Homo sapiens: one gene and its partners. The protein of the gene in region 1 interacts with the protein of each later gene in a pairwise test. Each region holds a gene or a part of one and is shown on either strand. Other genes may lie near its edges.

Region 1 (3,500 bases):
CTCCTTGTCACCATGCTGAGAGCCCTTGCCTGGTTTCTCATCCTGGGGAGCCTGGGGTGAGGGAGCCCCATGCATCCCTCAGACGTCAGCTGTCTTGTCTTCCACTTTCTGCATTAGATTTCTTTCATTTTTACGTTATTTTTTCTTTTTGTAGAGTTGGGGTTTTGCCATGTTGCCCAGGCTGATCTTGAACTCCTGGGCTCAAGCCATCCTCCGCCTCGGCCTCCCAAAGTGCCGGGATAACAGGTGTGAGTCACAGCGCCTGGCTTATTTCTTTTCTTTTCTTTCTTTCTTTTCTTTTCTTTTCTTTTTTTTTTTTTATGAGACGGAGTCTCGCTCTGTCACCCAGGCTGGAGTGCAGTGGCACAATCTCATCTCGGCTCACTGCAAGCTCCGCCTCCTGGGTTCACGCCATTCTCCTGCCTCAGCCTCCTGAGTAGGTGGGACTACAGGTGCCCGCCACCATGCCTGGCTAAGTTTTTGCATTTTTAGTAGAGACGGGGTTTCACTGTGTTAGCCAGGATGGTCTCGATCTTCTGACCTTGTGATCCGCCCGCCTCGGCCTCCCAATGGCCTATTTCTTTGAATAACATCCTGTTACTGGAGTCAGAGAGAAAGACCTCTGTGTCCTCCCTTTCACCTGTAGACGGTCCTCCCTGCTGCCTAACTGCTCCCTCTTATCCCCTGTGATCCCTCAGGCCCTTTCCTTGACTCTGTTGGTGTCCCCCATGCCCCCCAGGGTCCTGTCGGGGAACCCTCTGCACTGTTCTTGTGCCCTGCGCTGGCTACAGCGCTGGGAGGAGGAGGGACTGGGCGGAGTGCCTGAACAGAAGCTGCAGTGTCATGGGCAAGGGCCCCTGGCCCACATGCCCAATGCCAGCTGTGGTAGGTGCCGGGTGAGGGAGGTGGTGTAAGGGGGCTGGGGAAGAGACCTACCTGCCTGAGGGAGAGGGCACTGAGCAAGCACTGAAAAGGCCTGGGGAATGGGCACTGGCAAAGGCTGGGGGAAACTGCCTGGGGTGACATCGCCTGGGCTCCAGGTCATTGAGGAGGGTGGGGGAAGGAGCAGCCCCGCAGTAGAGTTCTGGGGCCACTCCCAGCTCTAACACCCCTTGGCCCTCGGGCGTCCTGGGTGGCCAGGTGTGCCCACGCTGAAGGTCCAGGTGCCCAATGCCTCGGTGGATGTGGGGGACGACGTGCTGCTGCGGTGCCAGGTGGAGGGGCGGGGCCTGGAGCAGGCCGGCTGGATCCTCACAGAGCTGGAGCAGTCAGCCACGGTGATGGTGAGAAGACCTTCGCTGGCAGCCCCCAAGAGGTCCAGGCAGAGCACAGGGGACAAAGATGGGGAAAGAGAGACACACTGTGGAGGAAAGAGACAACGAATAAGGAGCACACTGAGGTTGAGGGACGGACAGAGATGGTTTAGACCCACAGGGCTCAGGCCTATGCTCTGGGGCAGCCCAGGGCACGCACACACCCTCAGGGTGGGCACTGACCCAGCAGGGACCCCAGGCTATACTTGAAGCCCCAGGACTTAGAACCCCTTTCTGGGAACATGGTGTTGGCTGCAAGGGAGAGGGTCACAGAAACCTTACATGTTGGAGCTGAGAGGAACCCAACAGACCATCCCTCCCGTACATCACTTTTCTCTCTCCCTTCCTTCCTTCCTTCCTTCCTTCCTTCCTTCCTTCCTTCCTTCCTTCCTTCCTTCCTTCCTTCCTTCCTTTTATGGAGTTTCGCTCTGTTGCCCAGGCTGGAGTGCAGTGGCGCGATCTTGACTCACCGCAACCTCCGCCTCTCGGGTTCAAGCGATTCTGCGATTCTCCTGCCTCAGCCTCCCGAGTAGCTGGGAGTACAGGCACGCGCCACCATGCCCAGCTAATTTTTGTATTTTTAGTAGAGACAGGGTTTCACTACGTTGGCCACGCTGGTCTCAAACTCCTGACCTCGTGATCCACCCACCTCGGCCTCCCAAAGTGCTGGGATTACAGGTGTGAGCCACTGTGCCCGGCAGATCACTTTTCTATATAAGGAAACTGGAACCCAGGGAGGAGGCACAATATCAGTTGTACTGCATCCGGGATGAGTTCTCGGGGGTATCGTGGTCTTTTTTCTGGAGATTCTGGAAGCAGCATCCTCTTGGGCATGTGATGAACGTATTAGTAAGGGAGGCATAGGTCTGGCTCCAGCTCTCTCACTAATTAATTCTGGGAATGACTTTCAGAAAAATCCCTTAATCTGCCTGCACTTTGGTTTTCTTATCTGTAAGCTGAGAAGGTGGACATGATGGCCTTCTGATGTCCTGCCTGCCCCTGGGCGTTCTCTGGCCTCTATCTCTGTTATCCATACATGCCTTTGGACATCTTCCCAGGCCTTACCCTTTGTCCTTAGGCTGGCGATGGGCCGATGAGAGTAGCCACAGGTAACTCAGTCGGCCTTGTTGACGAGGTCAACGGCAGCTGACAATGGGCTGTGCCCACCCAAAAAGCTGGCTCCACCTGGGCAGGAGGAGTGGATATGCAGGGACCAGGAATGTGTGCCTGGGGGGCTGGGAGCATGGTGTTTATTTGGGGAGCCTTCACTTTGGTGGGAGAGTCCACCCCAGAATTGCTGGAGGCCCCTGGAACCATGTTGAGGGAGATGCCACTGGGGCGCTGAGCAGGGGGCTTCAGACATGGTGGAGGGACAACTAGCCACTGAGCAGTTCCTCCCTGCTCCAGAGAGCAAAGCTGCCTAGAGTGAGTAAAAGAAAGGGGACCAGGCAGAGGCCATACCCCTGCATGGAGAGACCTTAGATCAACTCTGTTTGGGGTGATTCCAGGATTTGCTTTCTCTTTGGGAGACTTACATGTTTGCTACCATCTGTGTTTTCTAGAAACTACCTATACAAAAGTCACTCCCTACTGGGCACAGTGGCCCATACCTGTAATCCCAGCACTTTGGGAGGCCAAGGAGGGATAATCACTTGAGACCAGCAGTTTGAGACCAGCCTGGGCAACAAAGCAAGACCCTATCTCTTAAAAAAAATTGCACCCTAAATGGGTTAAATGGAGGAGAAGAGAGGCTGCTCTCCCTCAGTTAGGAGGATAAGGGGTGGCAGACCAGCTCAAGGGGAAGAGTTATTGGCCCCACAGTAGTTGGAGGGGATGGGACAGCCAAGGGAAGCAGAGGGCAGGGCAGGGCTTCCCCTCGAAGTGGCTGGAACCCAGAGCTTGCACAAAAGGCTGGAAACTCTACTGGAACCTTTGAACTCACATATTCCAATGGAAGCCTGGGGAAACCATACCTCCTCTGGCATGTGGTCAGAGGATTCCACATTTATAAAGTTTTCGGATAAATGAGATTTATCCACCACTTCATTATTTTCATTTTGTGAAAATCACTTTCTAAAATGTCAGAAGATAATTTGTCCACCTCTTCAGCTTACAAAACAAACAAAAAACCCACAGTTCAGCAAGATGAAGAATTGTCGTAAGATCATGTAACTTACACATGACAAA
Region 2 (2,594 bases), on another chromosome or scaffold:
ACTTAATTTATAGAAAGCAAAAAATCCTTGAACCACCATTGTTCCTTGCCTTACTCTTCTTACTTTGGTTATTTTAAAAATCCATTTGTTCTTGAGACCCACTGTTGCAGTATCCTCAGGGTCCATGCCATAGGACTGTGTTACGAGTTCAAAAGTATTATCATCAGATCTTAAGTGTGGTAGTAAATTCCTCCCAGAGAAGTTCAATATGAGGCTGCTCAGCACCTTCAATATGTCAGGTCCCTGTCAGTAGGTGTTGATTTACCAATGATGAACCACCATCAACTTTTGTGCTAAAGGAAGGCAGGACCTAGGGAGGCTTCAGCTAGCTGAAAAGCTGACTGACACACTTATATCTAGGAGAAGTCACAAGACACAGTATTAAGGAATACAGCTAAGAAATATCATTAAGTAATAGTCTATTTAAATAGCCATTCAAATATGGCTTTCTAATAACTGAATTGGGAAACCTTTCTGAAAAATTATTAATTGGATTTGGAGATTATTGTTCCAAAAAAACCTTCTGCCATATTTGGAAACTCATTTCTCAGTCTAGAAGTTCTCCACTGTAAGTAGCATTTGTTTTGTGATGGTGAAAAATTGAGACTTTTTTTGTGTCAACCATACTCTTCAATACAAAAGGACAAAATATTTTTTAAATGATTTAGGTCAGAGTTGAAGAAGTGGCTATGATTATATGTGGCATGAATTGATAGTTATTGTTACATCCAGTCCTAATCTTTTCTTCAAATGTGAACTGGATCGAATGATTCCTTAAGTCCAGCAAGGCAACAGGAAATTAAACCTCTGGTCTGCACACTTGCAATGCAAAACATTTAATGGATTTTGATAGAGTCAACTTTGTATTTGATGGAAATTTTTTACAAGTTTTTTTTTTTGGATGCATACAAACAATAAGCTTTTTATTCTAACATGAGCAAAGACCCTCAAAAAGTGAGACCTGGGTGGAGCTTCATTTGATGCTGCTCCTCAAAAGTGGTTCTTGCTAAAGGATACCATTTTTTTTTTCCTTTAAAACACTATGTTCATTTTGGAGAAGTGATAAGCTAGGTCACTTTTATTCTTATTTTATATAAATTTCTAAAGATTTCTGTAACATTTAAATTTACATCCTACTTGGTAAAGCTGTTTTTGTTATGAGATTGTTGTTTAGCTAAAAATGCTAACTTCTATCATTGAGAACACGAGGCATAAATGGGTTAACCAATTTATGCCTAGTGTTCCATTATTGGAACACTCAGCATGTGGGAGTTATATCCTACTGCTCAAGGTCATTTCCAAGGTCTGATTGTAAAAATTCAAAAAATTGCAACCTCACACATAAATTAAAAGAGATATAGTATTTTATTACTGGGCTTTCATTCATGTCTATCCTGACTGATTTCTGTCACAGAGAGAAATTTAGATATTTTATTAAACTTGGATGTCATTAATTCCATATAAAGCAATGCTAAGAGAGTCAGCATGTGTTACTGATGTGTTGCTGAAGATTAAAGTATTTTTATGTCTCAGTAAAAAGGTGGAAGGAGCCAACTGAGACACAAAAAAAGGGCTGAGGTTCTATTCATGGTGAGGTTCTTTTTTTGTTTCTTCCAGCTCTAACGTGGGTACCCAACTGTGTGGCTTTTCAGTGAGCCCCAATATAAAATGTAATAATTTTTTTCTATTCTTAGGCTTTATCTACCAAAAAATGAATTGGATAATCTACATAAACAAAAAGCACGGAGAATTTATCCATCAGATTTTGCCGTGGAGATACTTTTTGGCGAGAAAATGACTTCCAGTGATGTTGTAGCTGGATCCGATTAAGTATAGCTCCCCCTTCCCCTTCTGGGAAAGAATTATGTTCTTTCCAACCCTGCCACATGTTCATATATCCTAAATCTATCCTAAATGTTCCTTGAAGTATTTATTTATGTTTATATATGTTTATATATGTTCTTCATAAATCTATTACATATATATAGATAAAATGTCAGTGTCTTTCTTCTTTTTTGAAGGTACATACTTCACAGTTTCCATCTTGTATTTACCTAAATTTGGAACACAGTATGCAGGAACATCAGGCATCATTTTGAAGAACTTTGAAATAGAACTTTCAAAGCAAAAACTTGAGATATTCAAAAATTGTGATTCCCCAACACCCACTTACTTACATATTTTTGGTCAAGTATTTATTCCCTGCTTTGGTTCACATTTGTAATTTCAGATTTATTAGAAAGCTAATTTATATATTTTTCTTCCCCTTCATTTACAAACTGTCTGTTAACAGATTGGCAACCAAGACTAAGTTTTAAATCCAGAAGAGAGAAATGTTTCACGCAAGCAGTCCCCCAACTCCCAACACACACTCCCTTTCATTCCGAGCACTAAATAGGTAGCTTACTTGACAAGCTTCCTTTAATTACACACAGACATGGAGGTTGGGGTAAGAAGATGGTGGTAAATATGAAGATAAGTAATCTTTAATAACTTCTGCTTTTGTATAAAATTGTAAGTGAAGTGAAAAGAAATATTCTTAGAGTAATCTAGGTGTATTATTTTGAAATTCACTATTCCTGCTCACAACCAAC
Region 3 (3,777 bases), on another chromosome or scaffold:
AGCTGGGTGGGATGAGTTGGTGAGGGGCACTAAGGGGGTATCCTGCAGGTTTAGGGGGCTGGGCCAGGGCCCATGTGAGAGTTATGACACTGGGGGAGTGGAAGGGGCTGAGTGTCTCAGGCCAAGGCTGGAGATGGGAGGGGGGAACCTCTGCTCTGCAACCCCAGAAAGGCAGGGTGGGGTGGGAGTAACCAGGGCCAGTGCAGCTGGAACCAGCTCAGCCTGTCCTCCACCTGCAGAGCCCATCCAGGAACTGTCCAGCACTGGGTGCTCCTGAAGGAGGCTGAGTCTGCCTCTTGAGCCCACAGGCCCTGGCTTAGCTTGTTGTCCTGGCCCCCACTCCCTGCTTATCTGACCCGCACTTCCTGCAGAGCCCAGCTGTGGATTCCCCCGCCCCCCCACCCAGCCGCTCAGAGTGCCCCATCCTCTAAAGGTGGTCATTTCCTTTCCTGAAACAGGGATTCAGTCTTCCCACTCTGCCCTTGGAAGCGGAGTTCCCCAGAAACAGGTCTCAGAAAGGGACCAGCCTGGAACTTGGCTCCATACCCCCCTTTTTTTTTTTTATTTTTTTGAGACAGAGTCTTGCTCTGTCGACCAGGCTGGAGTGCAGTGGCGTGCAACCTCAGCTCCCTGCAACCTCCGCTCCCTGCAACCTCCACCACCTCTGGGGTTCAAGCAATTCTCATGCCTCAGCCTTCTGAGTAGCTGGGGTTACAGGTGTGCACCACCACGCCTGGCTAATTTTTGTATTTTTAGTAGAGATGGGGTTTCACCGTGTTGGCCAGACTGGTCTCAAACTCCTGACCTCAAGTGATCCGCCCTCCTCGGCCTCCCAAAGTGCTGGGATTACAGGTGTGAGCCACTGCACCCGGCCTCCCCTCTTGTCCATTCTGCAGCCCTGGACCCTCCCACCTGGCGTCTGACACACAGTGGGAGCTCACCACTGCGTGGTGGCCAGAGCATGGTGGGTAGTCACCTCCCTCCCCAGAACCCCATTTCTTCATCTCTGCAATGGAGAAACAACTCTTTCTTACAGGGAAGATGTGAGGGGAGAAGGGTTTTAACAGGGGCATGGCCCACTGAAATGTGGGTTCTAGAACGCTGACCTTGGCCACATTGGAGGCTGGGTTTATGTGTTGGGGCAGTGGGTACCTCTGCAGCTGCCTGCCAAGAGCAGTTGGAGGAAAAGGGAATGAATAGAGCTGTGATTTTTAAACAAATTGCTTATTTAATCTTCATGACAGCCCCTTAAGTTTAGCACTGCTGTCACCTCCATCTTAACAGATGGGGAAACTGAGGCTCCAGAGTCCAAGGGGTCATTTCACTGGGTAGCAAGGCAGCTGGGATCCAAACCCAGACAGTCTGGCTCCAGATCTCAGACTTTTAACACTGTCCCAGCATGTCAAATGACCAGAGGTGGCCATAGGGAGATGCCCAGGCAGTGGGGCTCCCTTTGCTGGGGAACAACTGTCAAAGGCAACTGTGGGAACCCCTGGGACTGAGGGTCTGCAGACGCCGGTGCCAGCAGGGCTTGTCAAGCTTGGGATGTCTGCAAAAGCCGGGGGGCTCAGCAGAAGGGCTCCCACCCTCCCGTGGCGGTGGCAAAGGCTGAGCGTGGCATGAGAGGCCTGGGGTTGTCCTGGGTGCAGGGCTGTTGCAATAGCTGCCTCCAAGCGATGCTGCTCAGGCCGAGCCTTGGACTAGAAAGTTATCTGCACGGAAGAGCAGCTAGGGAAACTAATGCTCAGAACAGCCAAGACCACTAGTACCTAATCACCCATACAGAGGCATACAAGTCCCAAGGGCTCTGAATCCACACCTGTCCCCATCGCCAGCCAGAAGGCCCCCACCCATCCACTCTGCAGCAAAGTCACAGCAAGTTCAAGGGTTAAGTTAAGACCAGAAGCCATGCCTACTTTGCCTTCTGCCGGGGTGGTGGAGTGAGCTCAGATATTCTGGGAGGGGAGAGTTGGGGAATTCCAGCCACATCTGGCAGGAGGCCCTGGTTCAGAGCCTACCTTGTGGGGATGTGGTCTCTGCGGAGGTGAGCAGTAACACGGGCTTGAAAACCAACGCCCACGTATTCAGCAGTGAAGCAGAGACTGCGCTGTGTGCTGTGTTCCTGAATCTGCAGGGGAGAGAGAGACTCATACCTAGTCAGCGGGTGGGAGTCACTCCAGGCCGGAGGGATGACCTGCCCAAAGAGCATCTGTGTCCTGCCCAGGGAGGGGTGCAGAGAGGAGGCTGCAGGGGTGGAAGGGACTGCCCCACCGAGGCCAGGAGGGTGCTTGAGGAACAGCAGGATTGAAGGAGCCTATGTTGTCCAGAGTGAGGCTGAGTGGGCCAGGCCAGTGCTGCTAAGGTCCTGAGGACCCCTAAGGGCAGTGGACATGAGAAGGCATGGCTGGGCAGGTTTTCTGAGGATGGTGGAGGTGAGCAGAGTGAGGCCTTGTCTCTTGTGTCAGGCAAGGAGGTACCCCAAGAAGAGGCTGCATGAGACCAGCCTGGGCAACATAGTGAGACCCCCATCTCTACCAAAATATCAAAAAATTACCTGGGACCGGGTGCACTGGCTCACATCTATAATCCCAGCCCTTTGGGAAGCTGAGGTGGGCGGATCACCTGAGGTCGGAAGTTCGAGACCAGCCTGGCCAAGATGGTGAAACCCTGCCTCTCCTAAAAATACAAAAATTAGCCGGGCTTGGTAGGACGCACCTATAGTCCCAGCTACTCGGGAGGCTGAGGCAGGAGAATCGCTTGAACCCAGGAGGCGGAAGTTGCAGTGAGCCAAGATCACGCCATTGCACTCCAGCCTCGGCAACAGAGCAAGACTCCGTCTCAAAAAAAAAAAAAAAAAATTACCTGGCCATGGCGTCTTGTGCCTGTAGTCCCAGCCACTTGGGAGGCTGAGGCAGGAGAATTGCTTGGGCCCAGGAGTTCAAGGCTGCAGTGAGCTATGTTCAAAGTGCAGTGCACTGCACCCCAGCCTGGGCCACAGAGTGAGACTTTGTCTAAAAAGAAAAGGCCTCAGTTTCCCCATAGCGAATGGTTCATTGGGGGGTAGGTGGCACTGCCCACCCCAGGACATAGGAGAGAACCCTTAGTTCTGACCGTCTCCCCCTTCATGCACTTGGTTCTCTGACTGCTGCTCTGAGGACGGAGCTAAGTGAGGGTGCAGGAGGAAGGGGGGGTCTCTTGGCAGTGGGGCGCAGCCTTTTGAGGTGCTGCATAGCTAGTTTGACCTGTGGGACCACTGACCATCCCTCCTCTTCCCGGTGCTCCTGGCCTCCTGTGGCTGGGATGGTGCTGGGGAGGAGGTGGGGGGTGCCAGCTGGAGGTGGGCGGGGCTCCTGCCTCTCCCCGCCCCCAGGGCCACCGCCCACTGTGCCGCGCATCGATTGGTCGCGGGCCCATTAGGCGGGGCGGCGAGTCCGACTCATAAATATTTTAAGGAATGACCCGGCCCTGGGGTGCGGAATTGCTGCGCGGGCGGGGGCTGAAGACCGGCTTTTTTTTTTTTTTTTTTTTTTTGGTCCTCCAATTGTCAGCGCTATTTTTACCGCCGGAAAGCCGCCGCCCCCTCCCCCATGCCGGCTGGACCTACTGTCTAGCCGGGCTGGTGGCTGGGGTCTCTTGTCTGGGTTGCTGGTCGTGGGGTTAGGAGAGGCCGTGGCCTGGAAAGGCGATGAGCAGGGACTCCATTAGACTTCCCCTGCCCTCCTCGCTCCATCCCCCAGCACCAAAAACCACTCTGAAGCCCCCATCCCATCAGAGATG

What was found. Proteins that work in one complex are often made in the same cells at the same time.
Region 2: the proteins of NTRK1 (region 1) and TPTE interact in a two-hybrid assay, tested with the Homo sapiens proteins (one study listed by BioGRID and IntAct).
Region 3: the proteins of NTRK1 (region 1) and SH2B2 interact in a two-hybrid assay, tested with the Homo sapiens proteins (one study listed by BioGRID).

The regions. Positions count from the first base shown.
Region 1 is NC_000001.11:156,867,365-156,870,864, forward strand, and holds part of NTRK1 (high affinity nerve growth factor receptor isoform 2 precursor), read left to right. Parts: intron 1-739; coding exon 740-885; intron 886-1,140; coding exon 1,141-1,283; intron 1,284-3,500. UniProt on the Homo sapiens protein: Receptor tyrosine kinase involved in the development and the maturation of the central and peripheral nervous systems through regulation of proliferation, differentiation and survival of sympathetic and nervous neurons.
Region 2 is NC_000021.9:10,603,723-10,606,316, forward strand, and holds the end of TPTE (putative tyrosine-protein phosphatase TPTE), read left to right. Parts: intron 1-1,694; coding exon 1,695-1,830; 3' UTR 1,831-1,994; downstream 1,995-2,594.
Region 3 is NC_000007.14:102,289,691-102,293,467, forward strand, and holds part of SH2B2 (SH2B adapter protein 2), read left to right. Parts: intron 1-3,412; exon of another isoform or gene 3,413-3,497; intron 3,498-3,777. UniProt on the Homo sapiens protein: Adapter protein for several members of the tyrosine kinase receptor family. Involved in multiple signaling pathways. May be involved in coupling from immunoreceptor to Ras signaling. Acts as a negative regulator of cytokine signaling in collaboration with CBL.